Linked DNA regions of Homo sapiens: all the other regions are linked to region 3. Evidence: fine-mapped expression QTL. A gene starts in region 3. Each other region holds a variant in brackets. All regions are shown on one strand. Distances are between the middles of the regions. Region 1 overlaps SMPD3 (sphingomyelin phosphodiesterase 3). Region 2 overlaps SMPD3 (sphingomyelin phosphodiesterase 3). Region 3 holds the start of SMPD3 (sphingomyelin phosphodiesterase 3). Region 4 overlaps SMPD3 (sphingomyelin phosphodiesterase 3).

Region 1 (7,477 bases), 32 kb after region 3:
TTTGGGAGGCTGAGGCAGATGGATCACCTGAGGTCAGGAGTTCGGTACCAGCCTGGCCAACATGGCAAAACCTGTGCATGCCTGTGGTCTCAGCTACTTGGGAGACAGGTGGGAGGATTGCTTGAGCCTAGGAGGTTGAGGCTGCAGTGAGCCAAGATCACACCACTGCACTCCAGGCCATGTGACAAGAAAGACACTATCTCTTAAAAAAAAAAAAAAAAAAGCAATAGCTATTCGGGATACTACATGTTCCAATAATCAGCTACTCTGATCCCCACTTTACAGATGAGGGAGCCCAAGAACAAAGTGACCTCCAAGTTCCCACAATTAGTGATAGGTGGAGCTGGAACTCAGGCAGTCTGGCTTCAAAGTCTGTTCTCTCCCCCACTCTCTGATGCTGCCTTTATCATTAGTGTCATTATACTCATTTTAGGAGTAAGGCTTCATTATGGTTGTCATCTTCATCATCATCATTACATGGGGTTCATGGAAGCTGGGCCCTGGGGCATCTGTGCTATGTTGGAGGTGAGGAGGGTTCTCTCTATCTTCCATAGGAAGGGAGGAAAGTTATTGTTGTCAAGATAGAGGTGAAGTACATGGTTTTTCTCTTACCAAAACTCTGGAGATGCAAGGAAATGTGTAACAGGATTTGAGGAAAGACAGTCAACAGATGTTGGATGCTGCATCCCCATCCTGCCCCATCCCTCTGGCTAGGCGTTGAGGGGGACATTGTCCCCACATGTGATATACAATGAGCTGCCTGTGGGTGATAGGGCAGTAGATTCCTGGCCACCCAGCCATCACCTGTTTCTCCCGCACTGGCTGATCCCCCAAAGGAAGGTTCCAGAGACCTGACACAAAATCCTCAGTCTTGTTAATGTGCTCAATGCATGTTCCAGAACTTCAGCCAGTCCCTGCAGTGGGACCCTGGCTCAAGCGCCATCAACCTTGACTTCTTCCTGTCTCATTGGTGGCCATAGCTGCTCTGGGCAGCTTCCTCCAAGACCCCCCGACCCTCCTAAACCAGCCTTAGAGGGTATGGTCCAGCATCCCTTACCCCTCCAGGACTAGACAGCCCAGCCAGATACTAGCTGTGGCCCCTAGCCACTACTTCTTCATCCCTCTCACCTCTCCTGAGGCCTATTTCTACAAATAGACCATACTGGGGCCTGCCCTGTACCCAGCTTTGCCCTCATGCCACACTCTCTCCATCCTGTCCTTGACCCCTTCCTCAGCATCCTGCACTCACACCATCCCTTTCTCCCCTCTAGGAGGATACATCTAGCAGACCCATTCTAGACCCAGCATACAGAAGGTTCCCTGCTCTGGCCTTCTCATCACCCAAAAGGACAAGAAAGTCCAGACCCATCTTTAGACAAGCTCAAGACTATGGTTCAGGCCCACCTGACATTTACAAGGAGACAGAGCCAGGGGCAGGCTTACTTTAGAAATGAACAAAAGAGTTTCCCAAGCTACCTCCCCTTTGAAATGGGCATCCCTGTTCTCATATGGGATCCAAACTGGTTTGCAAGGTAACGTGTGGTATATGGGGTGCTAGTGTAGACTATAAAATGCATTGAATCCTCCTCTGCTGCCTGCAGGGGGATGTGATGTCAACATGGATGTTGTTCTTTGCCTTCCCCATTTGCCTTTTGGGGAATATGTCCCTATCAGGAAAGTGAGTCTCTCACCCTAGGAAAGCTCTCTACTTTAAAAAATTTAGTGCAATTCTTTTTATATCAGATGGTTATATTTAAAGTATTCAAAGGCCTAGATTTGCATCGTCTTGGTTAAATTACTCATCACCCATCTCTCATCTACAACCTTTTTTTTTTTTTCATTTTATGAAGGCTTCATTTACATAAAGAGTCTTAGTTTTCCTCCAGCCAAGTAGGTGCTCATTTCTCTTGTGGGTATTTGAGTCATGTATCTACCTGCCTGGATGAACTCGGTGGGCATCTACACGGGACCTTCTGCTGCGGCACACCGTCTGCTGTGAGCTGCAGGTGCCTGGGTAGGCATCTTTCTCCCATGAGAAAGTGAAACCCAACAAGCCAGAAATGCACCTTGGCTGACAGCCCGCACACAACAGGAAGGGAGTGGGGGCAGATCCGGCAACATGATAGGGCACTTTCTTGAGAGCACAGGATTTTATAAAAAGTTGTTATGAATGTGTACCATTTATTGAGCACTTGATATGTACCAGGCATGTGCTTGTTGTATTTTTCTTCAGAATAATTATGTGATGCAGGCATCAGGCCCACTCCTTGGCTGAATAAACTAGGGCTTAGAGAAGTTGTAACTTGGCAAATGTCCCAGAGCTGGTAACCGGCAGACAGGTCTGTCTGACACCACACCCCCATGGCTGTATGTATGTGTTTACTCATTTATACCCTACTTCATTCCACGCAGGGTTTGAGGCAGCTCAGACGGAGCTGTGTGATATAGCAAAACGACACAAAGAACAATAGCAAGGAAAGCACGTTAAGGGAACTCTGAAGGTACCAGCATCTTTGTCTAGTAGCGTGTAGGTCTAGGACTGGTCTCCAAGCTTCCTAGCAGCCAAAGCAAAGAAAGCCCAATCTCTTCCCCAGTTGTTTGTGTTTGTATCATAAACACAATCCAAACACAGACCAAAGGCCAAAAGAAGCACAATATTTCCTAAGTCCAAGTTCAAAAATAAACAAATGTCTCTCAAGTGGCTCCTTAGGGAGGCTTGAATGCAATAAAAGAGTAACAGTAGAACAATTGAGGGGGCTTTGTCAGCAGCCCCAGCATAGCAGGGCCAGAGTGGCTCTGGAGTGGGGTAAGAGGCTATCAATCAACCCAGCCCCTCTTAGCTGAGTCGGGATAGCTGTCATAGCCTGGGTTCCCTGAGTGTGTGCGAATTTGTTGATGAGTTCAGGGAAGTGAAGAAGGCAGGATCAGGCAGATGGAGAAACAGACCCAGACTGTGGGTGCAAATGAGACCTCAGCAGTTCTACAGGGAACTCAGGAGCTGAGATAGCTCCTCAGAGTTGTCCCAGATGGGGGCCAAGGGACCTGGCCTTGGTACCCCCTCCCCATCTGCCAATCATTCAGAAAGGGCTTAATTTTGAGTGAGGCAGTTTGCCTCAGCTGAGGGCAATGCCTAGGGAGGGACACAGCTGTGAGATGTCCCCAGTACCCAGGGGATGGGTGCACCAGCCCTGAAGACAGGGTCTAAGTGGAAACCACGGCAGCCACCCCAAAGAGCCCTTGGGTACAGCTTTTGTGACTGAGTGCCCTGGCAATCAGGAAGCAGCTTTCCAGCCACAGAGCTCTCCTGGGACTGAGGCATCTTCCAGCGACACGGGCCTCCCACCTAGACCTGACAGGCCTCAGGACCAGCCAAGTTGCCCCTGGAATATAGCATGGCCTATGCTCTGACACACCTGTGCTCTGACCCACCGGACAGATAGGGCTTGAAGCCCCAGTGGCTGCATGGGTGACAACAACTTCAGCCTGGAAACTATTAAACACTCACCTAAGGCACACCTACCTACATTCACACAGCTTCAGAAATAAAAGCGCCACAAAGCACCTGGCTTTAGCAGTATTGTTACTTCCTGGTGAACCTGCCAAGGTAAACTGTTTGCTGAGCATACAAGGACGAGGCAGAATAAGG[G/C]AACAAGTTTGATGTTGCTGTTAAGAGGGAAACTGCTAGGGTTAGAAGACAACAACGGCCTTAGATTGTGTAAGGTTTGCCGGTAACATTCTGGACAGGAGGGTAGGAGGGATTAGGGAGAAACCCAGCTGGGCGGTGGCAATGATTTGTGGAGGGAAGAGTGGGACGGGAAGTAGAAGCCTGGGACAACTCAGGGTCGGAGGCCCCAGAGAGAGGGAGATGGGAAGGGGCTCACAGGGAACAATGGGGAGACCAGGGAAGAGGGCGAGGCCTAGAGCAGGGGAAAGGGTCGGGCTCTGAGCTATGACCCATGTCAGTTTTCATTCACAGGAGTTCTCCCTGGCCTGGGCCCAGCAGGAAGCGCTGGCACACACCTGATTACGGGCACAGTGGCAGCAGCAACCTGTTACTGTCCTTCATAGAGGTCTGGTCTCAGAGTCTTGCAGGAGGCAGAATCCACAGTTCCATCCAGGTTTCCATTTGGTTCTGCCTGGCTCTTCCAGCAGCCCTTGCAGCGCAGATGTTGTCGGTTTGAATCTGATGTGATGAACTCTTTAAATAGCTACCCTAATGGATAATCAATCATTTCAGAGCTTTAATACTAAATCAGGCCGTTGGACACATCTGGGGGCAAAGCTGTTTGTAAAGGAGCCAAAAACTGCCCTTTCTCTTTTACTTTGTGAGGCAGAATATGTCACATTAAATACCTAAGGGTCTAGGACAAGTCTCTTGTAACCTAAAAAAAAAAAAAAAAAGCTGAAGAGGTAGACTCTTCAAGAGTCTGCAAATTACATATGAAATTTGTAGATCTTTTTAAATTAGATTCTTCATCTGAAGAGTATAATGAATAGTAAAATAGAACCTCATGTTAACATTTAAAATAAGCATCCGCTATATATATTTTTGCTATATTTTTAAAAGTCAATATTAAAATAATACAAACACAGTAGTCATGGTTACACTTTTCAGGTTACCTAAATTTAAAAGGTACTGGAAGAAAGAAATTTTAAGCCGTAGGTTAACGTTTCCGTAGACAGATCTCCTGAAAATGCCTGGGAAGCCTGCTTTGAACCTTCTGTCCAGGAAAACAAACCATCTGCAAAACTGCAGAGTTGGCTCAAACTGCAGCTAGACCCTCAGCATTGCTGAACGGGCAGAATTCCCCACAGTTTGACCCAGTGATGAGCCCGGCCTCTCAGGCATCCCCTTACTGCCTGACCCCCAAGGACTCTTGCCTCAGGGACCCACTCCACGCTCTCTAGCCACCTCTCTGCCCACTCCTTGGGTTTCTCCACAAACCCAAATGTCAGGGACTCCAGGAGCTTCTTCCTGGCCCTCTTTGGGTCTCACTCTGAACTCTCCCCATGGGATTTTATCCACTCTCTGGGCGTTACCTGTAGGATGCCCTTGCCTACCTTTCAGTCTCTGGCTTGAGTTTCTCCCTAATGGCACAGTTTATGGCCCATGTTCTCATGGATCCACCTGGATGTCCGCCAGCCACCTTAGTTGTCACCTGCGCATCTCTGACTCATCATAGATGCCCAAACCCACAGCACCCATTCCGTCTCAGATGAGGCCTCAGCATCCACCCAATGCATAGGTCAGAGGCCTGAAAGACCCCCTGCTAGGCCCACTCCCTCTCACTGTCACTGTCACACCAGCCATTGGTCCGTCAGTCTTCCAGATTCATCATCTCCTGCCTTCTGTCACCATGTCCCTGGGTGACCAAGGCCACCTCCTACCTGGCCCTGCTGCCTCTGAGCCTTCCCCTCCCGGCAGCCCATGTGGCCTTTGTAGAACACAAATCAGGGCATGCCACTCAATCTGATGTCTGCAGGATCTGGCTGCTGCCAGCCTTCCTCATCTCATGCCATGCCCTGTTGGCCAGAGCCAAGAGCCAGCACTTTCCCCTACAAGTCTTTGTGCATGCCATTCCTTCTGTTCCTGCTTGGACACAAACCAGGACATGAAGACTGGCTCCTACCTGTGGGGCTTAGAGGCCTCCCAGGCCCAGAGTCTCCCACCAGGAAATCTGACTGCCAGACCTAGCATTAGGACTGACTCCATCTCCCAAACCCCCTCCTCTATCCTCCAGTGGGTGGCCCAGTGTGGGAGAGACCAGGCTGAGCCTACCCCACAGGTGGGACTGCACATAATTGAGCCCGGGTCAAGCCTTGCTAAAGAAGGGTCACAGACATTTCTTACATTCCGAAAGATACTTTCACAGATTTCCTCCAAGTTCTGAATTAATAAAGAGGAAAGTGAGGCTTTTACTCTCTAGGCTGTTTTCAAAATATCCTATTGTCCTCCCTTCTCTTGCTCAGCTTCACAAAAGCAGTGAAATTCCAAGTGCCCTTTTAAAATGTCGAAATAGCCATCTTGAAGTTATTTATCTTCCAGCTGGAAGGACTTCACAGGTCACCCAAGCCTATACTCAGCCTAGCCCTGTTAGACTATGGGAACAGAGTTGGGTGGCTGAGGTGGGGACAGAGACCAGAGCAGGGAATCTGTCTCTACCATAGTCTGGCAGCGCCATCCTCAGACTCTGTATAGCCAGCGGGCCAACCTTCATCTGTCCACACCTCAGGTGGAAAGTCACAGCTAGGATGGTGAGAAGGTTCTGAGTGTCCACCCACCCAGACCTTGACAGGAGGTGCCCCAGGCCCTTCAGGAGAGCACCAGAACAGCACCAGAGCATGCCAGGTTTTATATTTGGTGTGTAGCAGCTGGTCAGGGATTCTGATCCAGGACTCCTGCTCTGTACAGCCCATGCTCTACCCATTAAAATCACTGATTTCATGTCCTTGAACCTACAAACAGGAATTTAACACACAGAGGGGAGAGTGGAGAGGGGATTATTATGAGCTGTTTCCAGAGGAGGATTAGACCATTTTTTGGATCCATTTCAATGCACTGCCACGTTTTCATGACTAGCCTGGAGTTCTGAGTCCATATATCTTTTTATAGTTTGACCTTTACACAGGAAAAAACCTCAATGATTTTCCACTATTTTGAATAAGCTGAATGATTTTCTATGTTTTCTGAATGATTAAGGAATGAAAAAACAGAGCCTCTCATCATCAAAGGCCTTGAGGGATAATTTTCTCTGGAGGACAGGGTTCACAAAACTATCTTCCAGGTGAGCCAGTCCCTTCCTCATGATGGAGACCTCCTGTTGGATAGACCAGCTATCTTGCAGCTATCTTCCAGCTGCAAGGCTTCACAGCTCATGCTTTCCCATGTGGAAAGGGGAGCTTTATCCTGGAGCAGAGGCAGAAGAAGGGCCTTCGCCTCTCAGAGTGGCCAAAGCTATGGAGGCCAGGGCAGAAAATCGGTCCCCACAGTGAGCTGATGGGACAGTGACAGCCATCACCACCACCCTGGAAAACATCACCGAAACTCAGGCCCTGTGCATCCAGCAAAGCCTCATTCACCTGGTGTCAAAGAGCAGGCATTCCACATAGGCCCCAGGCCAAGGACTTGAGCCACGCCAAGGGTGAAAAGAAAAAAGCATTAGCGGCATGAGCTGGGATACATCACTTCAGCTCTCTAAGTCTGTTTTCTTTTCTATAAAATGACATAGATAATAGTTACTTGTAGGATTGTTAGGAGGTTAACATGTTTAAGATGGTGTGTATGTAGCAGGTACTCAAAAAATGTTCTTCCATCCCCTCTTCAAATGCCCAACTTTTAAAAGCACAGCATATTCCTCTAACATCTACCATACACTACCCTGCCTTCCTAAGCAATGAAGATGGAATATTATTTTACAATGTCTTGATAACTTGGGGAGCCTCATTATGAAAATATGGGAATCACAGAATGTCTATC
Region 2 (7,477 bases), 86 kb after region 3:
GCTGTTGGAGCAGATGGGCTGTGACGTTTGGGCTGCTGTGAGCTCCACAGATGTGGGGCACCCACCCTGCGGCCCTCTGCCCTCAGCCAACAACTGGGAGAGGCAGTGTGTCCTGCCCAGCCACCTCCCTGGAGTGCTTTTTGGGTCTGGGGTCTCCTCATCTTGGGAAACTCAGTCTGGAATGGATTTGCATGGCTTGGGGAGGGTACAGAGGCACAGGAGGGAAGGAATCCCAGGGGCAGGGGATGAGGAGCTGGTAAGCGGCCTCTCTGTGCAGGGCATCTCTGTGGCCATCCCTCACCTCTCCTGGGCTGAGCACTGACAAGGGCTCCATCTTGCCCCCACCTGGGGTAGGGCAGTTATGAATTGCCTGCAGGGTACAGTGGAGATGCTAATTTGTATTAAGCCAGCCTTTGGGATCCTGCCAGGGTCACCTGCTCCGTCTTGGGTAAAGGAGGTAAGCAGGAGGTCGGGGCAGAGGGGAGACCTGAAGAGGATGCTGCCACAGTGGGCTCAGGATGGAGCCAGGGGTGTGCAGGGGCCAGCCTAGGACACAGGTCAGGGAGCTCTCATCCAAGACGGGTGACAACGGGACCACGGCCTATAAAGCAGATGACTCACCATGCAGCCAGAAGGCGACGAGGCCAGGAGGGGCAGGGTCTGGGCCTCTTGCTGTGTGGGGTGGGCTCTGAGGCCACGCCATGGCACAGGGGCAACCCCCTGAGATTTCAGGGGGAGAAAGCACCAGGGTGTGACCAGGTCTAGGGTGTAACTGAGGGAGGGAGGAAAGAGCCACAGACAGGACTGGACAAGGAACTGAGAGCCGTGGCCACGCTGGTCACTGGGAGATGGCAGGGCCTGGGCCTCCGGGGAGCCTTGCTGCGGTTCGGCACTTCCCCCATGCTTTGCACAGATGGCCGCCAGCACTCCCCACGCCACAGGCCAATAGTTTCTTTCAGCACCCGCCTCTGGCCCAGATCCGTAAGTCCCTAGAAGCAGGACACATCCTGTCCCTACTCGGACCCCAGAATCCAGCCAGGAGCCAGGCTTGTGAGGGTCTGACCTCATGGGTGGGTGGGCACTGCCAGTGTCCTGTGCTCTCAGGGCCACAGTGACTGGCAGGTGGCAGCACTGACCCCCTCCTCCCCCAGGTGCAGGTGGGAAGCACACCTCAGGACCAAAGAATCGTCGGGTACATCGCCTGCACACACCTGCATGCCCCGCAAGGTAGGGTTGCCGCCCACCTGTGTTTTTTCTAGGCATGGGATCAGTGCCTGGGGCCTAGCTGGGGTCTGGGGCGAACTTCATCATCCAGTCTCTGTACTTCTGCCCTGCAGAGGACAGCGCCATCCGGTGTGGGCAGCTGGACCTGCTTCAGGACTGGCTGGCTGATTTCCGAAAATCTACCTCCTCGTCCAGCGCAGCCAACCCCGAGGAGCTGGTGGCATTTGACGTCGTCTGTGGAGATTTCAACTTTGATAACTGCTCCTCTGGTGAGGCCGGGCTCCTCCCCACTCAGGTCTCCAGCTCTGGGGAGGCTGTGGGCTCAGTCACAGCTAGACAGACTTCGTTAGGCAGCTCAAAGAATTCCTGCTCCTCGAGAGCATGTGGGCGGGGTATTTAGCAAGACTGATTTCTCTGCCCCCTAGAAATCCTAGAACAGGAAGAGCCCACGCTCTGCCTAGAAAGCTGGAGACAGAGATGCCCTAAAAACGAACCTCTGACAAGGAAGGCTGGGGGCCTCTGAAGCAGACAAAGGACGAGTCCACTAGTAACACCCATCAACGGGGCGCCGCGCTCTTGCTTCGAGCCAGCTGCCATTCTATCGCTGTTTCACTTAAGTGTCTTAACAACCCTGAGAGGGAAGCATTGCATGTCTCCACGTGGTGTGGTGGAGGAAGCTGAGACTCAGAGAGGCTGGAGAACCAGCCCAAGGTCACATAGCCAGGCAGTGATTGCACTGGGATCTGAACCCTGGGAATTGCACCTTAAACCATTAGGGTGAAAGACTACAAGCTCGTCATCAGTGAAACAGCAAACACTTGCTGTAAATAACTGATCTGTGGATCCGATGACCACATGGACCTTGTGGGGACCTTCCTTCCTCTGTCCGAGGACCGTGGTCACTGTCACTGTCCTCAGAGGGAATGCTGAAGATCAGGGCGTGTGCTGGGGGAGGTGTTCTCAAGGACACAGAAAAGCAGCGACAAATGAAGCACGGGGCACCTGAATGGGACTGAGATCCCACCCAGGGGCAGTGGCCTAAGGGATGGGGGCCTGGCAGCACATGGGGAGTAACTGATGGGAAGCAGGGGCACAGGCCGTGTGGGACAGCAAAGCCCCCTGGTGCCTCAGCGTTTCCTCCCTCCCCGCACAGACGACAAGCTGGAGCAGCAACACTCCCTGTTCACCCACTACAGGGACCCCTGCCGCCTGGGGCCTGGTGAGGAGAAGCCGTGGGCCATCGGTGAGCTGGGGCTGGGGGAGGAGGATGGGAGCTGGGCTCCCCACAGACTTCCCTCAAAGATCACCAGGACCTACCCCACAAGACCCCACTGCTGGGGAAGGGCCCCATTCAGCTGCCCCTGGCTAGCAGAAGCCCGTGTCCACCCACAGAGGCCACCCCCTAGAGGCTGCCTGGGCCCTGCCTGCAGCGACCACTGTCACCCCCTCGTCCCCCCCAGGTACTCTGCTGGACACGAACGGCCTGTACGATGAGGATGTGTGCACCCCCGACAACCTGCAGAAGTAAGCACTGCGCTCCCAGGCCAGGGACGAGGCACACCCTGACTAAGGTGGAGACAGGGACTGGGCAGGACCCACATGGGAGAGCTCAGCTCGGGCTCATGAGGGCTTTTATTTGGCAGAAACCTGTCCCTCATCTCACCTTTGAGAGCTTTTGAGAGCTGGGAGCTGGGCCAGGCAGGTAGACCTCACGCCCTCACGCCCAGGGGTACTGGCCTTGCTAAATCTCTAGGGGTATTTCCCAAACCTGTTTTCAGGAGCTAGCCCTGCCCCGAGCCCCTGCCTGCTGGGTACAGGAAAGGGCCTGGAATTTCCCCCGGGCCAGGCCACAGGTCGACCCCCATGAAAGAGCTGCTGGGTACGGCGCCTGCTGAAGGCAGCCTGGCAGCTTGCAGCACCAATCAGGCAAATACAGACACCAGCTGCAATAACACAGCCGACCATTTTCAAAGTAGAGACAGTTCCATCCCAGCCAAAATTCATTCTTGAGCCCAGTAAGATGTCCA[T/C]AAAGAACACATCTGAGAGGCCAACAGCAGAACCAATTTATAATTCACAGCCCGAGACTGCAGTCACAGCGATGGTTCCTTGCAGCTAATTTGAGCCAATTAATTAGATTATAGACTAAATTTGAAACATCATCCTATGCTGAGAAAATTCTTTTTATGAGATGATGATTTAAAAATGACTACCAGTAGCTCTCAGATCATTGATGCTGGAATTAATTATCAAGGGCAAAGGACAGTGATGGATTCCATTTCTGAGCTGTAACAATGTCCTGAATGTCATTAGTGTATTTATCTTAAGGCTGATGAAAACCTTGTGGAAGCCCATGTTTGCAGGCCCTGCCTCGCCGGGTGCCCCTTTTGCATCCGTCCAGGCACTCACAGACCTGGCGGCCTTTGCAGGGTCTCTCACCACTGCACTTGCCATCCCAGGCCCTGGCCCCAGCCTGCCCTCTGCAATGGGGGCTCCCAGGAGGGGGTCCTAAGCCTCTGGCCCAGTGGTGCTGAGGCCCCAGGGGACAGGCTGGCAGGAAGCAGACGGGCATACTGCTTGTCTCAGGGCAACAGTGCCAGAAAGGGATTCCAGATGTCACATCCCCCTGCTCCAGCGCCCTGCCCTCCCTGTGGATCCCCTAGCACCATCATGGGTTTCCTCACTCAGAAGCGGGATGACAGCCTGTTCCCTGAAGCGTCTTGGGGCCCACAGCAACCATTCTTGTTTCAGAGGAGGAAACAGAGGCTTGGAGGCTTGGTAACATAAGCAGAGTCACACAGCCACGTAGGGACAGCCCCATTTGAGACTCCTCAGAGGTGCTCTCCTGGCTCCCTCAGCTCCTGTCAACCTGGGAACAGTCACAAGGGTCCCCGAGACTCATGGCAAAGACCAAGCTCCTCAAAACAGGCCCCTGTTGGCTCAGGGCAGAAGCCCATTCTGGGGAACGGGTGGGATCAGTTCTGTCCGAGTTCAGAAAGGGAAAGTGAGTGCTGGCCAGGCTGGGGCGGACAGAACACTTCGACGGGCTCCGGAGCCCAGATTCAGCCAGGAACCCACAGGCAACTCGGCCTACCCCCAGCTGAGGCCCTTTTTGGACCCGCAGGGGAGAGATCTTAAACCCAGCGCTTTGGTCCCACCCACCCGCTCCCACACTGGGAGGAGACCATGGCTCCACACACAGCCCCTGCCAGGCCCACAGGGGCGGGCATGGGGGCCCACCTGCCTCCTGCATGTGTGGACAGGGTCCTGGAGAGTGAGGAGGGCCGCAGGGAGTACCTGGCGTTTCCCACCAGCAAGAGCTCGGGCCAGAAGGGGCGGAAGGAGCTGCTGAAGGGCAACGGCCGGCGCATCGACTACATGCTGCATGCAGAGGAGGGGCTGTGCCCAGACTGGAAGGCCGTGAGTCAGGAGGGCCCAGCAGCCAGGGCCATGCAAAGAGAGAGCAGGGCCCGGGCCCTGCAGCTCTCGACAGCCGCTCCCTGAAACCCCACGCCCCAGGCCACTCTTACAATGATACCCATCACTCCCTCAGACCCTTAGGGCCCCAGGTCCTCCAGGCCCCATCCCTCTGACTGCAGGAAGGTCCCAGCCCACCCCAGCCCCGGGGCCTCACTTTGGGGATCCCCAGGCCGCTCCCTGCAAGATGCCCTTGGAATCTGACCAGGCTGTTTCTCCCCTCTCCCACTCACCCCAGGAGGTGGAAGAATTCAGTTTTATCACCCAGCTGTCCGGCCTGACGGACCACCTGCCAGTAGCCATGCGACTGATGGTGTCTTCGGGGGAGGAGGAGGCATAGACCGTCCGGAGCAGCGGGGCCTCTGCCAGCCCTTGCAGCTGCAGCCCATCCCTGGGCCATGTCCCCTCCATCGAGTGCCCGGTGCTTGGGGGAGGAGGGCAGGGACAGGGAGGGAGCCACAGTCAGTGCCCGGGAACCTGGAAGCTGCGCTGCTCTGCGCCTCTGGGCCTCACTGTGGACAGAGGAGTCAGGCCCGCCCCAGGAGCCTCCAGCTGCCTAACCAGTGCCATTCTTTCACAACACGATTTTCTACAAATCTACAGCACAACCGAGTTTGTAACCCGTGGGTTAGTATGAGGACCGGGTTCGTGTACTCTCTGTATCTCCTCTTAAGCTTCGTCCAGGGTTCTTTATTTTTGTCTGCTGCCAATGTCGTCTCGCATGCCTGCACCCTCGCATGCACGCTGCCCGCATGCCACGTGCCACGCTGTAGCCACAGACCCCTTGCTCGGGCCTCACCCAAGGCCAAACTCCAAACACAATCAGAACCAGCCAAAGAAGCACTTCCTGGGCACGGCCACCAGCTCTCCCGCCTCCAGTGTGGGCCGGCTCCTGCAGGGTCCGAGGGCTGCATCTCTACCAGCCAGCCCAGGGCTCTTCCCAGGGTCTCGCATTCAAGGGCAATTACATTTTAAAAAGAAAAACAGAAAAAGGTTAATCACAAAACCAACCCTCACTTCACAGGGTCTGTAAGTCACTCATAGAACTTTGCTCTTCCCGAGACAGGGTCCCTTCCCCAGCTCAGGCACAACAGAGTCTGGCAGGCTCTGGCACCCTGGGCCTCCTCCGGGAGCCTCCCATCTGGGCAGTGGAGCCATAAACGGGGATCCGAGAAGAGAGTATCCACTTTTTTTTTTACAGGAAGAAGGGACTCACAGCATAAACGGGGGTGGGGGGGATCCTGATTTTGAAAATAATCTATTTGTAGCTTCTCTTCTATCAAAACCAACACATCCTCTTCTTTCTGCCAATCCTCTCCCCCACGGGACACCTCTCTGGTTCGGGACCAATCCCTCCCTGGGGACGTGCCCCACCTGCGTGCCGGCTGAGCTCAGGAACCCCTGCCTGCCCCCCGGGTGGGGCTGCGGCTCTGGCCTCCCAGGCCCATCCTCAACAGCTACCCCAGCCAACACCAAGGCCACAAGGGGACCCCGGCCTAGGAGGCAGGAAGCCAAGGTGCAGAGAGCAGCCTGGCCCTCACCAGTGCGCAAGCTGGGGCAGCAAGGCTGACAGTTGCTGCATGCCCAGGGCAGGGTGTGGTACTGGCACCCAAGTTCAGCATGGCAGAGCTGGCCAACAGCTTGTGGTCCCCGATCTGCCTCCAGCCCCAAGATGCCTACAGCCCCCAGGCCCCTTCGGCAGCACTGCCTCTGCCCACCTGCCTTTAAGAGACTCCAGGGCTGCTCCTGTCATGCAGCGAAGGTTTTGTCTGTTTCAAAGTTCGAGACTCAACTTGAGGGACTGTTTTTGACAATCCCCGCTGACCTCCGCTCCTCGTGGCGCCCTGGCCCTACACCCAGCCTGGCCCAGGGCCGGCTTTGCCTGGTGAGGCTGGAGGGAGCACCAGGACCTGCTGTCTGCTGTCAGCCCCTCCTGGTGCTGGTGCCCTGATGCTGTGCCTTGTCACCCATTGAGCTGCAAGAGGGACCAAGAGGGGGCCACGCAGCCAGCCAGATGCCTGGCCCTGTGCTGGGGCAGACAACGCTGCAGAGCCCAGGGAGCCTGGCGCTAGGACGTGCGTCCTTGTGACACTGGCCTGTCTGAACTCACCTGGCCTGGGAAGCACCGTCTGCCCGGGCCCAAGCCCTGCCCCTCCAGAGTCCAGAGCCAGGAAGGGGCTGCTGAGGGCGAGCATCCTGCTGGGCTCTCTGCCCGGCCCACCCCTCCAAGGGGCTGGCCTGTGAGCCTTGACTGGGATTCATGATGTGGAGGCCCCCAACTTCCAGAAGCAGCTGGTACTCTGCTCACACAAGCGACTGGGCCGGCCGGCCCTGGACCCCTAGACCCCGAGCCGCCTGCCGACTGCCTGCACAGGGAGAGCAGTTGAGGCCCGGGCAGGGCCCCCACACCAGACCCCAACATAGCTTCCCCACCCAGGCACCCCCTCCCGGGGCAGCAGGCGTGGGAGTCAGGGCTGCATGCTCCTCCCCTCCCACCTCACAGGCGGCCTTAGGCAAGTCATTTTCTGTCATCACAAGGTCGCCTCTGCCTAGTCAGGTCCTGGGGTCCAGAGTAAGGATGTGCGGCCCCCAGGCCCCCGCACACCTCCCTCAGCACCAAGACCGGGACCCCCCCACCCACGTGTCTCATTGTGGCTGCCTATGGACTCCCGGGCCTTGTGTGCAGGCCAGGCCCTTCCACTGATTTTTTAAAGTGAACCATTGCTGGATCTCAGATTCTGTGGCATCTAAGGCCTAGCAGGGGTGGGCACACGGGTCA
Region 3 (7,477 bases):
ATTCATTCCTTTAGGGTTCTGTGCCCTAAAACCACCCCTTAAAAATGACAAAACAAATATATTGAGCATTTTCTCATATGAGTCAGGCCTTTTATCACATTTAACCCTCACAATTCTGAAGAACACATTTTAATTTCACAAATGAGAAAACTGAGACCCAGAACAATTAAATATTAAATAACCTAATCAAAGTCATACAATTAGTAAGAGAGAGAAAGGGGATTCAAACTCAGATTACCCAAGAAATTATCTCCTGTTTATTCATGGTCAAACCAATTTCTGGTAATCCAAGAAGAATAATGTGAAAACAGACTAACATTTGGTAAGTGCTTAATATTTATAAAGTACTTTACATAAGGAATCTCATTTATCCCTTATGACATTTTCAAATAAACAGACTGCAAATCCAAGGAGGTAGTTTAGGCAAGGTCACACAGCTAGTAAGTAGCTTTGAATTTCCCTACCTCCACCCTTAAAAAAAATTTCTTTTTTTTTAGAGACAGGTCTTGCTCTGTCACTCAGGCTACTAGAATGCAGTGGTGTGATTGATCATAGTTCACTGCAGCCTCAAACTCCTGGGCTCAAGCAACCCTCCCACCCCAACCTCCTGAGTAGCTGGGACTACAGGCATGCGCCACTGCACTGAGTTATTTTTTTTTTTTTTAATTTTTAGTACAGGCAGAGTCTCACTATGTAGCCCAAGCTGGTCTCAAATCCCTGGCCTCCAGCAATCCTCCTGCCTTGGCCTGTCAAACTGCTGAGATTACATGTGTGAGCCACTACACCCAGCCCCACCTCCAGCCTTATTAGCTGCTACCTAACACCAATAAACAGCATTTTACAACTGAAAAAACAGCTCCAGCCCAGGATCACACATCTAATCAGAGGCAAAGTCAGGATTAGGATCCAGGTTTCCTAACTCTACTTGGCTGTGCAGATGCTGTTATAGTCTCTGGGTGCTGCCAGAATTGTGGAACCCTGACTTTTTCCTATTTATAACAATTTGCCAAAACTGAAATTGGATTCCAGTGGTAGATGGATGGTGGTACACTACTTCTGAAGGGGTAAACGGACCTCCACAGGGTTTCAGCTCTGGCTTCAGGTGGACTTATTTGGTATCCCTCTGCAATACTCGGGTGATACTCTGCTGATGCCCACCTGGTGGCATGGTCCTCCCTGATCCACTTTTCCAACAGCCTCTGCTCTCACTGCATCCACTGAATGAGGCACTCTGCTTTAGCACACGTCCCATTTCCCCCTGCCTCCTTACCGTTTTCTCTTCAGTAATAAGACCCCATCTGTTCACCCAGCTCCAATTGCCTTCCCTGATGGTTTAGCCAGGATCAAAGCCCCTCTGCCATGCCTCTTAAAGTCCTGTTGGTTCTTCCCTAAATGCCATCTGTTTTACTCACTCCCCCACCCTAGCCTTCCCTTCCTGGATGTTACTAACTCAAGGATGACAGAGCTGCTTTCTCTCAGGCTCTGTCTCTTTGGTTTGAATTAGGTCCAGAGTAAAAGTCCCCTTGGTTATTTCCTTCTTGGCCATGAGTTAATTATTCCCATATATTAAGGCATTCTCCCCAGAGTGTATCAGCTGACATACACAAAAAAACATCTGGAGAAGGTGATAAAATGAAATGTGTAGATTAACTAGGCCATCTAGCCAACATCAGAATGTTTAGTGGAGAAATATTCAGGAAAGATGCTACCTAGCAAGGTGGGACATCACCAATGAGGCCTAAGATGCTGAGCAGAGGGTTGAAAGAAGAGCAGGAGGCCGGGCACAGTGGCTCACACCTGTAATGCCAGCACTTGGGGAGACCAAGGTGGGCCTAGGTGGCAGAGGCTGCAGTGAGCTGAGATCGCGCCATTGCACTCCAGCCATTGCACTCCAGGCAACAAGAGCGAAACTCCGTCGAAAAAAAAAAAAAAGAGAGAGAAAGAAAGAAAGAAAAAAGAAAGAGCAGGAATCTTAGGACATCTTTACTTCATAACTGACAGGGCAGAAGATCTTTCTCAGAAAAGGAGTGGGAGGTAGGGCATTTAGGCACAGAAACGAGTAGGGCCAACAGCTAGAAATAGCGGAACATGAAGAACTGATGACATTTCAGGGAGAACTGACAGGAATAATAGGCATGGGTCTATCAATCTCTAGCATCATAGGATTAAAAGGGTACTCAAAGCATTCAGGTAAAATCCCAACCCACTGTACAAATGAAATAAACATTTCTTCAAGGGGGCGGCATGCCTCTAACTGAACACCTCCAGCAATGAGAAATGCCCAACTTTAGGAAATCAGAGTTTTGGAGGTGTATGTGAATGAGGTTCCTTTATTTTCTTTTTTTTAATTTTATTCTTTTTCTCTTTTTTTTTTTTTTTTTTTGAGACAGGGTCTCACTCTGTTGTCCAGGCTGGAGTGTAGTGGTGCAATCTCGACTCACTGCAACCTCCACCTCCCGGGGTTCAAGCGATTCTCCCGCCTCAGCCTCCTGAATAGCTGGGATTACAGGCACGTGCCACCACGCCCAGCTAATTTTTGTATTTTTAGTAGAGACTGGGTTTCACCATTTTGGTCAGACTTGTCTCGAACTCCTGACCTAGTGATCCACCTGCCTCGGCCTCCCAAAGTTCTGGGATTACAGGCGTGAGCCACCACGCCCGGCCCAATTCATTTTCAATTCAACAAATATCTATATTTATATCTCAATAGCTAGTGAGTGCCTACTACGTGCCAGATACTAGACACTGGACTGTAAGTATGAATAATATAGACATGGCCCCTCCCCTGTGGATCTTATAATGAGGAAGACGAGCACATAAACATGCAAGTAGAACAGGGGAAGTAGAGGGTGCTGCTCAAACACAGGGTGGGGCACTCAACAGACAGCCCAGCATCTAGATGTCTTCACAAAACAGGCAATGTCTAGGCTGGGGCTTGCCGACGAGTTAGCTGAGGGCAGGGTGGAGAGGCCCAAGGGAGTAGGAGGCTTCCCAGCTTCCAAAGAAGTTAAGAGTGTTGCAAAAAAGTGGAGTCCAGATCTTGAAGGGGAGAGTGGGCTTAGGTCCGGGGGCATGTGAAGCGCCCTCCGTCTGCTGCGCTGGGGGAGATGCTGCGGTATCCTGGAGTGGTGTGAAGGAGGCCAGGACCTGCGATGGGAAGACGGAGACGGGAAGGCCCTGGTGGCCCAAGGGATGACCAAAAGTGAAGCGCTCCTCTATGACAAGATTGAGACAAAAATAAAGGAATAAAGTTCTGAATGCGGTGGGAGAGTCTCCTCCGTCCTCCCTCACCTTTGCTGGGCAGGAACCAAACCTGCTTGCCCTCGGTTTGCCCCATCACCGACGGGTGTGGTCGGGGGCACAGCTCTTCGCCCTTCTTCTCAGATAGGAAAACTGAGGCCCAGGGTCCTGAGGCAGAAATCAAGGTTTTCTCCTCGAAATGGCCTCCCAAGAGGCTGCCCGGGGTCTCACACGATCCTTCGAGGGTCCTGCGGCCTGCCCCACGCCTCCGCCAGCCATCCTCGGCTGGTCGTCTTTGCTATGGAAACGGTCCTCCCGCCCTGCTCCGCGCCTCCGTGTCTTCAGTGCACTCTGGGAAATGCAGTCCCGCTCTGTTTGCCTACCCGCGGCGTGAGCCCACTCCGCGTCCTTAAAGAACTATAAGTCCCAGAAGGCTGTGCGAAACTCCGCCGGTCTCTGGGGGATGTGGTCTTGAAGGAGAGACCCAGGAACCTGCGGGCGGGGCCGGAGGGAGAGGGGAGGACGCCCCCAATGGGCAGACTCCTGGGCGGGGTCCGGGTCACCATTGGCTCCGGCGGCGCGAGGGAGGCGGGGTCAGAGGAATGAAGCGCGGAGCTGTTCGCCGCTCCAGGTGCTGAGTCTGAGGGAGGCTCCGGACCCGAGAGCCGCGAGAGCCGCCGCCGCTGCGGCCGCCGCCAGATCTGCGGCCGGGAGCCCGGGCTGTGAGGAGCCGGGAGGAGCGGGGTGCGCTGCCGGGCGCTGACCGCCCTCCCGCCCGCCGTCAGAGGTCAGTGCTGCTGAATTCGCTTTTGTTTTCTTGGGGAGCGGGCGAACCGAGGCGTGAGGGGCTGGGGAGTTGACGGGACGTGTTCTCGTTGCTCTCAGGACCGCGGGTCCCGGACAGCCGCCGACTGACTAGGGGCCTCCCGTGGCCGGGCGCCGGAGGTCGGAGCAGCTTGGGTTAGTTTTCGTTTTATCATGGAGAAGGCTCTTGGGTATGAGGGGCGAGGGCTGGGGGTCACCCCCACCCCCCATCTCTCCTGGGAGAGCGAGGAGGCTTGGACCCTCCCTCCCGCTGTGCCTGGCGACGGGGCTGCTCGGATTACTCAGGACGGGAGGATGAGGTGTTGTGGGATGAAGGGACTCGAGGCAGGGGGACCCCTCCCCGCAACACTTCGGCTGCTCGAGGTTACAAAGGAGTCTGGTGGTGATGGATGAGATCGCGGACCGCTCCCCTAGCCCAGACCCTCCCAGGGGTATTCAGGAAGGGCTGCTTGGGATGCAGGGAAGACCCTTGCCCAGGCCCCTTCCTCCACACTCGCCCCCCTCCCTATTCCCCCCTCCTCCCTTGGCCCTAGGGTTTTGTAAAGAGGAGGATCGAGGATGTGGAAGAGACAGAGGACTCTTACCCCTCCCACTTGGACCCTCCTAGGTTACTGGTGAAGGGTGGAATTGGAATGTGGCAGGGAAACGCTGGGAGACCCCTCCCCATCCTTCTCGGAGTCGCGGGTGGAGGAAAGCACTGACACTCGGAATCCCCCGCGCTCGGGCCCGCGCCGAGGGTTGGGTGGCCTGGGTGTGAGAGGTAGTGTAGGGGGATGTACGAGGACAGGAGGGACCCCTCCCCACCTCTCCCCACCTGGGCCTTATCTCCCAGGCCCTCCCTACCTGGATCCAGGCCTGGGGCTCTAAGTCGAGACGACCCGCCCTAGCCCACCACGCCCCGGGGACCGAGCCTCTGGCACCGCAGCTGGGGGCCAATCCCAGATGGGCATGTACAGAGCGGGACGGGGCGGGTCTCCCCTCAAGCACTCAAGAGCTCCAGGTAGACGCTACCCCCAACCTCGTGCCCGCGAATCTTTGGGGGCTGCTCCGCTCCGATGCAGGGCGCACCCCAAACCGAGGCTCGGGGACCTGCTTCCAGGACGCGCGGTGGCTGTTCCAAGGCATGGGGCTTTCGCGCTCGGCCCAGGCATCCTCGAGAGGACAAAGCGGCGGTCGCCGCACTGGCAGGCCTGCGCCGCGGGCTGGGCGGGGGGCGCGGCCGCGGAGGGGGGGCTTCGGGCGCGGCGCGGGCAGCTTCCACGGAAACGTGCCAGGAGCGGGGCGGGAGACAAAGCGCACCGGCTTCTAGCGGGCCCGCGCGAGCCGGGATGGAAAATCCCGAGGGAGGAGGCGGCTGAGCCAGGGCAGGGCACTATGCCCCCACATCTTTCCCTTTTCCCATACCCCCTACCCTAAGGCCAGCCAGGCACCCAGGATTCTGTGCACGCGATGGTGACCAGGGCCCCTTCGGGGGCCGAGAGTGGGGGTGTTCAGGACCTGTGACCACTAGGACAGGGACAGGTGGGGGCTCCACCTTGAGCAAGGGGCCTGGAGTTCACAGGGCGTGAGTGGGCCAGGGTCCAGAGGGACATCCTGACTGGACCCTCCCACGCCCCATCAGCCATGTTAGGTCAAATTTGGTTCTGGGGAGGGGATGTGTTTAAGTGTGTGAGGGTTTGCATGGATGATGGTGTGGGTCAGAGTGTGGGTGTGAATGTGTGTGACTAGATGAATGTACCCATGTGTGTTTCAGTCTTCATGTGTGTGGCACGGCCAGAGCTTGCGCTTCGGGCTGTGTGTGTGTGTGTGTGTGTGTGTGTGTGTGTGTGTAGATGAACCACTTACTCATTTACTGATGGGCTTGGATGTTGTGGGGGTGGGGAGCAGGGTAGTCACATCTTTAACTCTCAAGCCACAGCAATGACCTAGGGTCCGAGTGGATGCCCTCAGGGTGAAGGTAGCTTCAGGTTGCTTTGTGCCTAGCCTGCCTGGCCTGCGAAAGGCCCAGTAAGTGGGGAATTCACAACTATGTGGAGCCTTCTTCAGCCCTTCTGAGGTCTCAGGTCTGACCCTGACATACTCACCAGTGCCCTGCCCTTCCCATTTTATCAGAAGCTTTATCCTACTGTAATAGGCTGCTCCAAAGACCAGAATTCTGCCCCCTCACCACCACCATGTGTTTCCAAGTGAGGCTTGGCAGGGGACTCATCAACAGAGTCACTTATGATGTGGGTGCAGGACTACGTTGCAAGGCAACTTTTGTCACTTTGGCCTCCATGTCTGGAAGGGCATGGCGCTGACGTTGCTGGTCAGTCACAGGCAGTGTCTCAGAAATACTAGGTGTCTCAGAAATACTGTTTCCTCAGAGAGGAAACAAGGGTAACACAGACATACACTACAAGGTGATACCCCTAGAGGATAAGCATGCCCCTCCCAGACCTGCCCTCCCCAATAAGTGACCCTGATTTCACAGCACTTGCATAGCAAAGGTACTGTGCAGCTTTGAGATAATCTTCACAGAGATCTACTTCCCATAGGATGAGAGACCAGATGATGGCCAGGAGAACAACAGAAAGAGCAAGTACTACACAATGTAGCCACCATCTATCTAGCCCAGGCTGCCTGATCCAGTTCCCACAAGTATCCACTCCCAGTGTCCACAGCGACCTCTGCTGGAAAGAGGTTAAACCAGTCACAATTTGGCAACTAACACTCCCCCATGGTGTAGAGGCTCAGAGTGAGTGTGAGCATTGTCAGGTAAAATCACAAATCTTTCTATTGGGGGGCTCCCTCCTACCTTCAGAGTGTTGAGTTGATGTTCTTGTCTGAAGTTCTTTCAAGCTAGTTCAAGCCATGGAATTGCTGCTGTCTTCACCTCTATGGAAATGTTTAAAGAGGGCTTGAAGGTCTTTGTTCAAGTTTCTGACCAGTGGAAGGTGGGCATCAAACCCATTTATAAGGACAATGCATGGAAAACACTTATCAAGGCCAAAGAGATTTAGGCATCTCCTGTCTCTACCTCTACCTCTACTACTCTTTTCTCCTCTTTCCCTGTTCCACATTTATCCTCTTCTTTCTGTCATTATTAAATTAGTCAATAACATTTTTCAAAGGCAAGCCCTCTTTTCCTCAAAAACAATGTAGCCCAGAAAATGAAGGCTTCTGGAGGCTATTACCAAATGCAAAAAGCTGCAAATACGGCTTTCCAGGCCTAATGACAGAAGTGGGGGAGAGAGATAAGACATGCTCAGTCCTAAATACCCATCTGGTGACATGTGTCTCTTCTCCTGGAGTTACTCTGAAGGAATTTCTTGCAGTCACAAAATCCTAAGAGCTCTGCAGCTCTGCAAAGGAAAGAAGGTATTTTAATACCTGGTATTGTTCTTACTTTGGCATCCATGTGATTTGCATT
Region 4 (7,477 bases), 24 kb after region 3:
CTCCATGATGTTTACTTCCCTGCTCCAAGGATGAGGCCTTGGCTGCTCAGACACTCCAAAGCAAACATAGAAATGGGGTGTGGATGAAGGTGGACATAGCTCATGGGAAGTCTAAGAAGCTGACAGAGGCACAGGAAGATGCTTCCCTGTGGGTAGATCCACTAAGTGGCATGAGACCCTCCCCTCTCTGAAGTCTTCATCTTTCCTTTGCATTTCTGGGTCTCGAGCACAGGGAACAAGGGACTGGATCCTCAGGTGAACCTGTCTTGTACCTGCCCCCGCTTGCCAAGCTCCTCCCGTCCCCTCTGTCCTGCCCACTCCCTTCCTCCTTCCTTTCTCTGATTCGATGTTTCAGCTCCCACATTTGGAGGTGACTGCTCACAATGCATCAGCACCCCCCCCCAGTCATTTTTAACTCCCCATCCCACTCCTGTGACCCAAATGTTAGATGTTACACAGTTCTCAACCCAGAATCATCTTGTTGACTTCTGCCCATAGCACTAGGGTTGTGCTGTCCGGTATGGGAGCCTCTAGCAATGTGTAACTATTTAAATATAAATAAATAAGATTAAATTAAAAATTCAGTTTCTCAGTCACCCAAGCCACATTTCAAGTGCCTGATAACCATGTGTGGCTACAGGCTACCATATTGGACAGTGTCGAAACAAAACATTTCCATCACTGCAGAAAGTTCTGTTGGACAGTTGCTGCCAGAGCCTCCAGATGTCTTAGGGTCCCAATTCTTTCACTAGATGCATTCATTATTCCTCCCAGTTCTTCCTTGCCGTCTGGCAAGTTTGACGATACAGAAAAGTGGTAAGATCATCTCTGAAATCAGATAGACCTTAGTTTAAGGCTGGGCATGGTGGCTCACGCCTTAATCCCAGCACTTTGGGAGGCTGAGGCAGGTGGGTCACATGAGGTCAGGAGTTTGAGACGAGCCTGGCCAACGTGGTGAAACCCTGTCTCTTTTGTATCTGAAAATACAAAAGTTAGCCAGGCATGGTGGCACACTCCTGTAATCCCAGCTACTTGGGAGGCTAAGGCAGGAGAACCGCTCGAACCCCGGAGGTGGAGGTTGCAGTGAGCCGAGATCTCACCACTGCACTCCAGCCTGGGTGACAGAGCAAGACTCTGTCTCAAAAAAAAAAAAAAAAAAAAAAAGATAGACCTGAGTTTAAATCTCTGATTTAAAATAGGCTGCTGAGTGGACCTAGGAAGCCTCAGTCTCCTCATCTGTAAAATGGGAATAACCATATTGACCTACGTGGATTGATGGCAGGATTAAATGAGTAAATTTAAAGTAGCTGGCAGAAAGAAGCACTCCACAAATGAGGTTATTATTATTCTTGTTATTAATAAAAAGTTGAACAGCCCAGTGTGAGGCTGAATCCGTATGAAATATTTACATGTGTACACACAGTCAGGGTTGGAAAATGAGTGCAGTGACAGAAACAGCAATGACGAATGTACATCTATCCCTTGGCCTCTTGAGGATATTTCTATTTTGGGTGCTATTTCCACACCATATTGATTTTAAATCAATTGTTAAGAGCTTTTCATTGTTTCACAGTTTTCAGAAGCATGTCTCTCCTTCAGATATTCAGTAGCTCCCCCTGGCAACTTTCATCAATGAGTCACTTTTATGGAGGCCAAGCAGTAGGGACAAGCTACTAGGTCAGCCAGGAGTCAGCTCCAGGCCACTGTGGGGAGACCCACAGAAGCTTCTTGACATGGTCATGAACTGGTTGTCAGTGTGACCAGGGTGAGCCAGCTCACCACTCTTTGTTTTCTCTTCCTCCAGTCTCCAGTCCCCATAATGACATAATAAATGGGGTTGTCAAAGATCAAATAAGGTTATTGAATCAACATTCATTTCCTTGTGGGTACACCTGTGTCTGACATCCGTGGGGCTTGGTTCTACATTAAGCCTTAGTAGATTCTCCGTTCAAATGTTGACTAGATACCTGATCATGTAAACGTCCTATTTAGAACTATGCTATGCATCTTGCAAAAGTGGAACAGGATTATTGATACTGTAGTAGATAAGATGGCTAAAATAGAGCCTCTATTTTATTTTCACCTTTGTTGTGTCTTAAGTCTGAAGTTTATTTTCCTTGAGGAAAATCTAGCCCATCATCAGCACTAGGGATCCCTGCTTCTTTTTAAGCAAATCCACTCTCAGTGCTCCCTTAGCATCCTCCACATGGAATCCTCTGTGCTGGGGGTACATTGTCACCTCAGAGACACACATGTGATTGACTTCCTCGCGGCATAGTGCAAGGGAGGAGGGCTGACAAACCCAGGTGTTGTTCCTTCTGGGTGGCACACCTCTCCCTCTCTTTCAGCAGGGAGTGCTTGTTCTCCAGATCCCCACCACCCAGCCCCAGCCTGGGCTGGCCCGAGGCCGGATATCTTGCTGAGTATCCCACCACCCTCCCAGCCTGCAGATTCACCCATCCTTATTGCCTCACAGTGCTAACAGCAATCTGAAGAGCTTAGGGTCAGCATTGATGTGTCCCATGGCGCTGCCACCTCCCTGCCCCTGTCATCACAGCCTCCTTGGTTTCTGCCCATCCTTCTTCTGACTCTGGCTCCTTAGGGCCCGCCCCCCCACCCATTGTCCTCATGGCATCCAGTGGAGTTTGCCTCCTGTGGCTGTCACTCTGCAAAAGCCAAAGACCCTCTCCAAGAGATGAGGAAGCTGGGCCCCTTCGCTCCCTCCTACTGATTATTCATGTGAAACCTTGGAACCATCCAGCTGGAGGAGACCCTCTTGGCATGCAGGGCTCTTGCCCCTGCCTTCACCCATCCCAAGCAGTCTATTTCTTTTGAATAGGAAAGATTCTCCCTCACCAGTTCCAGCCTTGACTTCGGTGCACCTCCAGAGACATCCATGAAGTTCTGTTTTGATTTCCCATATACAGAGAATTGACAACCAAAGGTCTAAAGCCAGAGGTTCTAATTCTGGCCCTTGTAAGCCCTACTATCTGATAAGTGGGAGTGAGTGCCATGACTACCAACCCACAGGCACCATCCCATCAGCTGAGGCCCAGGCCTCTCTTCCACATCTTCCTGGGAGGAGGTTTCTGCATCTTTTATTAGGGACTGTTTTCTTAAGAACATTCTTCTGGTTTATAATATAGCCAGGCGCAGTGGCTTATACCAGCAATCGCAGCATTTTGGGAGGCCAAGGTGGGCAGATCACTTGAGACCAGGAGTTCAAGACCAGCCTGAGCAACTTGGTGAAACCCTGTCTCTACCAAAAATACAAAAAATTAGCCAGGCATGGTGATGTGCACCTGTAATCCCAGCTACTCAGGAAGCTAAGGTGGGAGGATCACTTGAGCCCAGGAGGCGGAGGTTGCAGTGAACTGAGATCATGCCACTGCACTCCAGCCTGGGTCACAGAGTGAGACCCCATCTCAAAAAAAAGAGAAAACATTCTTCTGGTTTATAATAGAGTCATGAAGACAGTAACTTTGCAAGAGAATAGAGTCATCAAGACAGTAACTTTGCTGATGCCTGGCGTGGCGCTGAACCATTCTGTGTGGATTCTCCCATTTCATCCCCTCAGCTGTTGTATGATGCAGCTACTATGATTACCTCCATTTTACAGATGTGAGAATTGGGGTTCATAAGTAAAATTACTTTTCCCAGGTCACTGTGGAGTCAGGCCCAACATGACTTGAGGGTCTGACTGTTCGACCATGATCCACAGGCCCTTGCACACAGGACCAAAGCTCTGCAGGCAGTGCCCAGGAGTCACAAGGGTCTCTGCTGATGCTTATTCCCCCTACGGCCCCTGCAGCCCCATTGTGGAGGGGCAAGTGAAGAAGGCAGAAGGCAGACTTAATGCTGGGGCTGGGAGTTCAGGATTCAAAGCTTCAAGATGGTATCTTTAGGATAATTACATCCTGCCATGTATACACAGGAGTAAGGACATGGCAGTACTCCTGGCCAAAGAGAGGATTCAGGAGAAACTGTTGTTCCCACAGCCAGTGACCAGGGCAGGCTTAGCCAGGGGGCCTAGGACCCTCTGGCACCCTAGGACCACCTAGGCCCCCTGGCTAAGACTGCCCTGGCCATTGGCTAACTCCTTGGGCTTTGTGCAGGGAGGGCCTGACTGGGCAGGTGACGTCCCCAGGCCGAGCCCTTGGTCACCTTGGGCCATGTCCACCCTCACTGTGGACTGTTCACCGCCACTGAGGCCTCCAGACCTTCCATCTCCCCAGCACTGCTCTGCTGGGTGACATCACCGCCTCCTCAGCCACTGCTGGGGTCCAGAACCACCCACATCAGCCTCCATAACTTGTTTCACTTGTGCCAGTCTGTTCTTTCATGCTCAGAGTGCCCCACGGGGTCTGGAATAGTGCCAAGCTTAGGAAGTACCTGCTGGTGGGTAAAAAATGAGGTGGTCCTAAGCTCCTTGGCTAAGCCTGAAGCAGAGATCTGGGGTTCAGGAACAAGACCAGTAGGAAGAAAAAGACTCAACCCAGTTTGCTGGTGTCTTAGTTCATTTTCTATTGCTGTAACAGGACACCTGAGACTGGGTAATTTAGAAAGACAAGAAATGTATTTCTTACAGTTCTGGAGGCTGGGAAGTCCAAGATCAAGGGGGTCGCATCTGATGAGGGTCTTCTTTCTGTGTCATAATATGGTAGAAGATGGAGAGAGATAGAGAGTATGCCAGCTCAGATCTCTCTTCCTCTTATAAAGCCGCCAGCCCCATCATGGATCCCCACCCTAACTACCT[T/C]AACTAATCCTAATTACCACCCATAGGCCTCACCTCCAAATGCCATCAATATATGAATTTGGAGATTAGGTTTCTAACACAAGAAATTTGGGGGACACATTCAAACCATAGCAGCTAGTAAGTAACTCTCTGAGGAATCCCAGGAAGCATCTTCAGCTACTCAGAGCAAGGTCACAAGAAGGGAATGATCTTTGAGATCCCTTTTGTGCCATAAAGGAGGTGACAAGGAGGCCAGAAAACCTTGGTCAAAATCCTGACTCTGATGCTAACTTGAACCAATTACTTCACCTCTTTGAGCCTTAGTTTCCTCAGCTGTAAAATAAGGTAATACCAGTGCCTGTCTCTTAGGTTGTTGTGAAGATCACTGAGCTAATAACTTTGAAAATGACTGTGAAGCCCCCGCTGAGAACTGTGGAAAGGTTTACCATTACAACTAAAATCCTCTAAATCAGGCTGGGGCTGTATATGTGTTCAATGGTTAAGGAAACTGGTGCTTTTCAAGGAGACTCCAATATTCTAGCTGAAAAGGACCTCAGAGATCCTCACATTAACCTCCTCACTTTAACGAAGGAACCAGTGCAGCCCAGCCCAGAATCTCCCAGCAGCCTACACGCCACCTCTTTCTCTGCAGCAGGTACACCCAGGGGAGGCAGAAACTCGCCCACTATTCCCTGGAGGTTAAAATAAGGAGACTGCATGGGAAGCAATTTGCAGTCATCTCAGATCTGTGGCTAAGGAGAAAATTCCCTCCCCTTTTCTCCAAACCCTCAGCATCATCAAACTAAACAACCCCTCAGTGGGAGGTGGAATTCTTCACCACCAGTTCTCACCTGACTGGAGGCCTCCAAGCAGCTGGGCCTGTACTGTTTTTTATTTCAACAACAGCAAAACCTTCTTTTCCTCCCTCTGAGCACTTTACTATACTCTGTTTCCTGCACATTCTTCCAGCTTCTTGCTCAGGGGCCTTATACGTCTATCTTGTCCAAGCACCTGCCCAGATCACAGCAAAATGAGAACCAGGCCCAACATCCATGGCTTTCCCAGTTCTGGGCAAGGGAAGAGGTTAATTCAGATTCCATGAGGGCCTCTGCAGAATCACAATATTTCCTCACCTAGGATAAATTCCACCTCCTTCTGAGGATTTCTGCTGTAGTTTGGTGATGCTGAGGAATATGTTATCTTACAGTTTTGGAGGTCAGAAACCCAAAATCAATTTCACTGAGCTAAAATCAAAGCATCAGCAGGCTGGTGTTCCTTCGGGAAGCTCTAGGGGAGAATCTGTTTCCTTCTAACTTCTAGAGCCTGCCTATATTCCTTGGCTCCTTGCTCCTTCCTCCATTTTCAAAGCTTCAGCCTCTGCTTCCTTGTCATCCTCTTCTTCCACCTTCAGCGGTCTTGCTTCCCTCTCAAAAGGATCCTTGTCGTTACGTTGGGCCTATCTGGATAATCCAGGCTTCTCTCCCCATCTCAAGATGCTTGACTTAATCACATCTGCAAAGTTCCTTTTGCCACATAGAGTAGCATATTCACCAGTTCTGGAGATTAGGATATGGACATCTTTCAGGGGCTACTACCAAGTCTAATAGGCAGGCCACTGGACCCCTAAGCCTTGGTTTCATCAAGCAAGTAGGGAAGAAAAACAATGCCCACCCCTAGACTCTTTAATGGGTCGAACTCAATGGTGCCCTGGAATGTCAATGGCTAGGAATGGAGGCCGAGCTATGAGTATCAGGCCTCATTCCCTAGCCAAGTCAAAGAGATGTGTCTGGGAGGTGGTAGAGTGAGGGAGTGGGGCTTGGACTTAATTGTTTTACTGGACATGGCTTCTTCAGGTGTACTGGGGGAGTGGTTTGCACAAACACTGCCAGGTTGGTCATAAGTCTGTCCCCCTGGCTCATTGCCATGCTGGCTTTGGCTCCATTGCCTCTGGTCTCTTCATCCCCCACCCCACATACCTATCTTCCTGTGCTGTCATTCCAAAGCACACATATAACCACGTCTCTCCCTTTTGTGGCTCCCCCTCATCCTTGGGTGGAGGTTCAAGCTCTTTACCTTGAGTTACACAGTCTCTGCCATTCCCCACAAGCGCCAGACAGAGCCACAGAAAGCAGGTGGCAGATGTGCGAGGGCAGAGCTGGGAATGGGGGTGAAGCAGATGAGGGAGGATGGGGATACTGTGCAGATGGTGTTGCAGGGACGGGCCTGACTCCAGGGGCCCCTGTGTACAGAGGCAGTTGGTGCCGACATGCTGGTGGTCTCTGGCTGTGAACCCAGGTGGGCCAGTGAATGAGCATCAGGTAGAACCCAGCCCATCAGAGCTGTTGGCCTGGTCCTGACTCAAATGGGAGTGGCTTCTGGGTGCTGGTTATTGTTCTGAAGTCTGGAAGGACAAGAGGGGAAGTCTTTTCTCCACAAATGATTTTGGCCAAACCCCAGGGATGGAGAATGCCCACTAGGACCTGGATGAGCTGAAGGCCATAGCTTGCTGAGGGAGCGATTTGGTCTCTCTCTGCATTAGCTGAAGACATGTTGAAGTGGGTTCAGGGCCCCCACCTACCTGAGTCACCATCATGAAGCTTAATTAATGCTTACAAAGTGCTCTGAGGCCTTGACTGAGAGGCCTCATGTGAACACAGAATATCCTTATTAATCACTGTGACAGCACCAAGTGAGGTGGCCTATGGGGCAGCTGCCTCCACACACAGAACAATGGATGCAGCC

What was found.
Region 1: its variant is fine-mapped to the expression of SMPD3 in pancreas (GTEx, PIP 0.94).
Region 2: its variant is fine-mapped to the expression of SMPD3 in thyroid (GTEx, PIP above 0.99). The same link has a PIP of 0.9 or more in tibial nerve.
Region 4: its variant is fine-mapped to the expression of SMPD3 in esophagus mucosa (GTEx, PIP above 0.99).

Annotation. Positions count from the first base shown.
Region 1 is chr16:68,412,729-68,420,205 of GRCh38, reverse strand. The region is part of intron 1 of SMPD3 (sphingomyelin phosphodiesterase 3); the gene reads left to right. Among named protein-coding and RNA genes, the nearest start is that of SMPD3, 32 kb to the left of the region's middle. The variant G/C (reference allele first, on the strand shown) is at 3,647.
Region 2 is chr16:68,358,767-68,366,243 of GRCh38, reverse strand. SMPD3 (sphingomyelin phosphodiesterase 3) reads left to right here. Exons shown (of 9, transcript NM_018667.4): 4 at 1,152-1,227; 5 at 1,338-1,493; 6 at 2,378-2,467; 7 at 2,685-2,748; 8 at 4,485-4,641; 9 at 4,937-7,477. The coding sequence ends at 5,038. It also overlaps a transcript of PRMT7 not described here. Among named protein-coding and RNA genes, the nearest start is that of PRMT7, 51 kb to the right of the region's middle. RefSeq lists enhancers at 2,052-2,863, 2,864-3,676. The variant T/C (reference allele first, on the strand shown) is at 3,252.
Region 3 is chr16:68,444,903-68,452,379 of GRCh38, reverse strand. SMPD3 (sphingomyelin phosphodiesterase 3) reads left to right here and starts at 3,872. Exons shown (of 9, transcript NM_018667.4): 1 at 3,872-4,027. It overlaps LOC124903705 (a long non-coding RNA gene), which reads right to left and starts at 3,540. Exons shown (of 2, transcript XR_007065097.1): 1 at 3,314-3,540; 2 at 235-3,215. RefSeq lists an enhancer at 3,505-3,554 and a silencer at 3,655-4,174.
Region 4 is chr16:68,420,679-68,428,155 of GRCh38, reverse strand. All of the region lies in intron 1 of SMPD3 (sphingomyelin phosphodiesterase 3), which reads left to right. Among named protein-coding and RNA genes, the nearest start is that of SMPD3, 24 kb to the left of the region's middle. The variant T/C (reference allele first, on the strand shown) is at 4,757.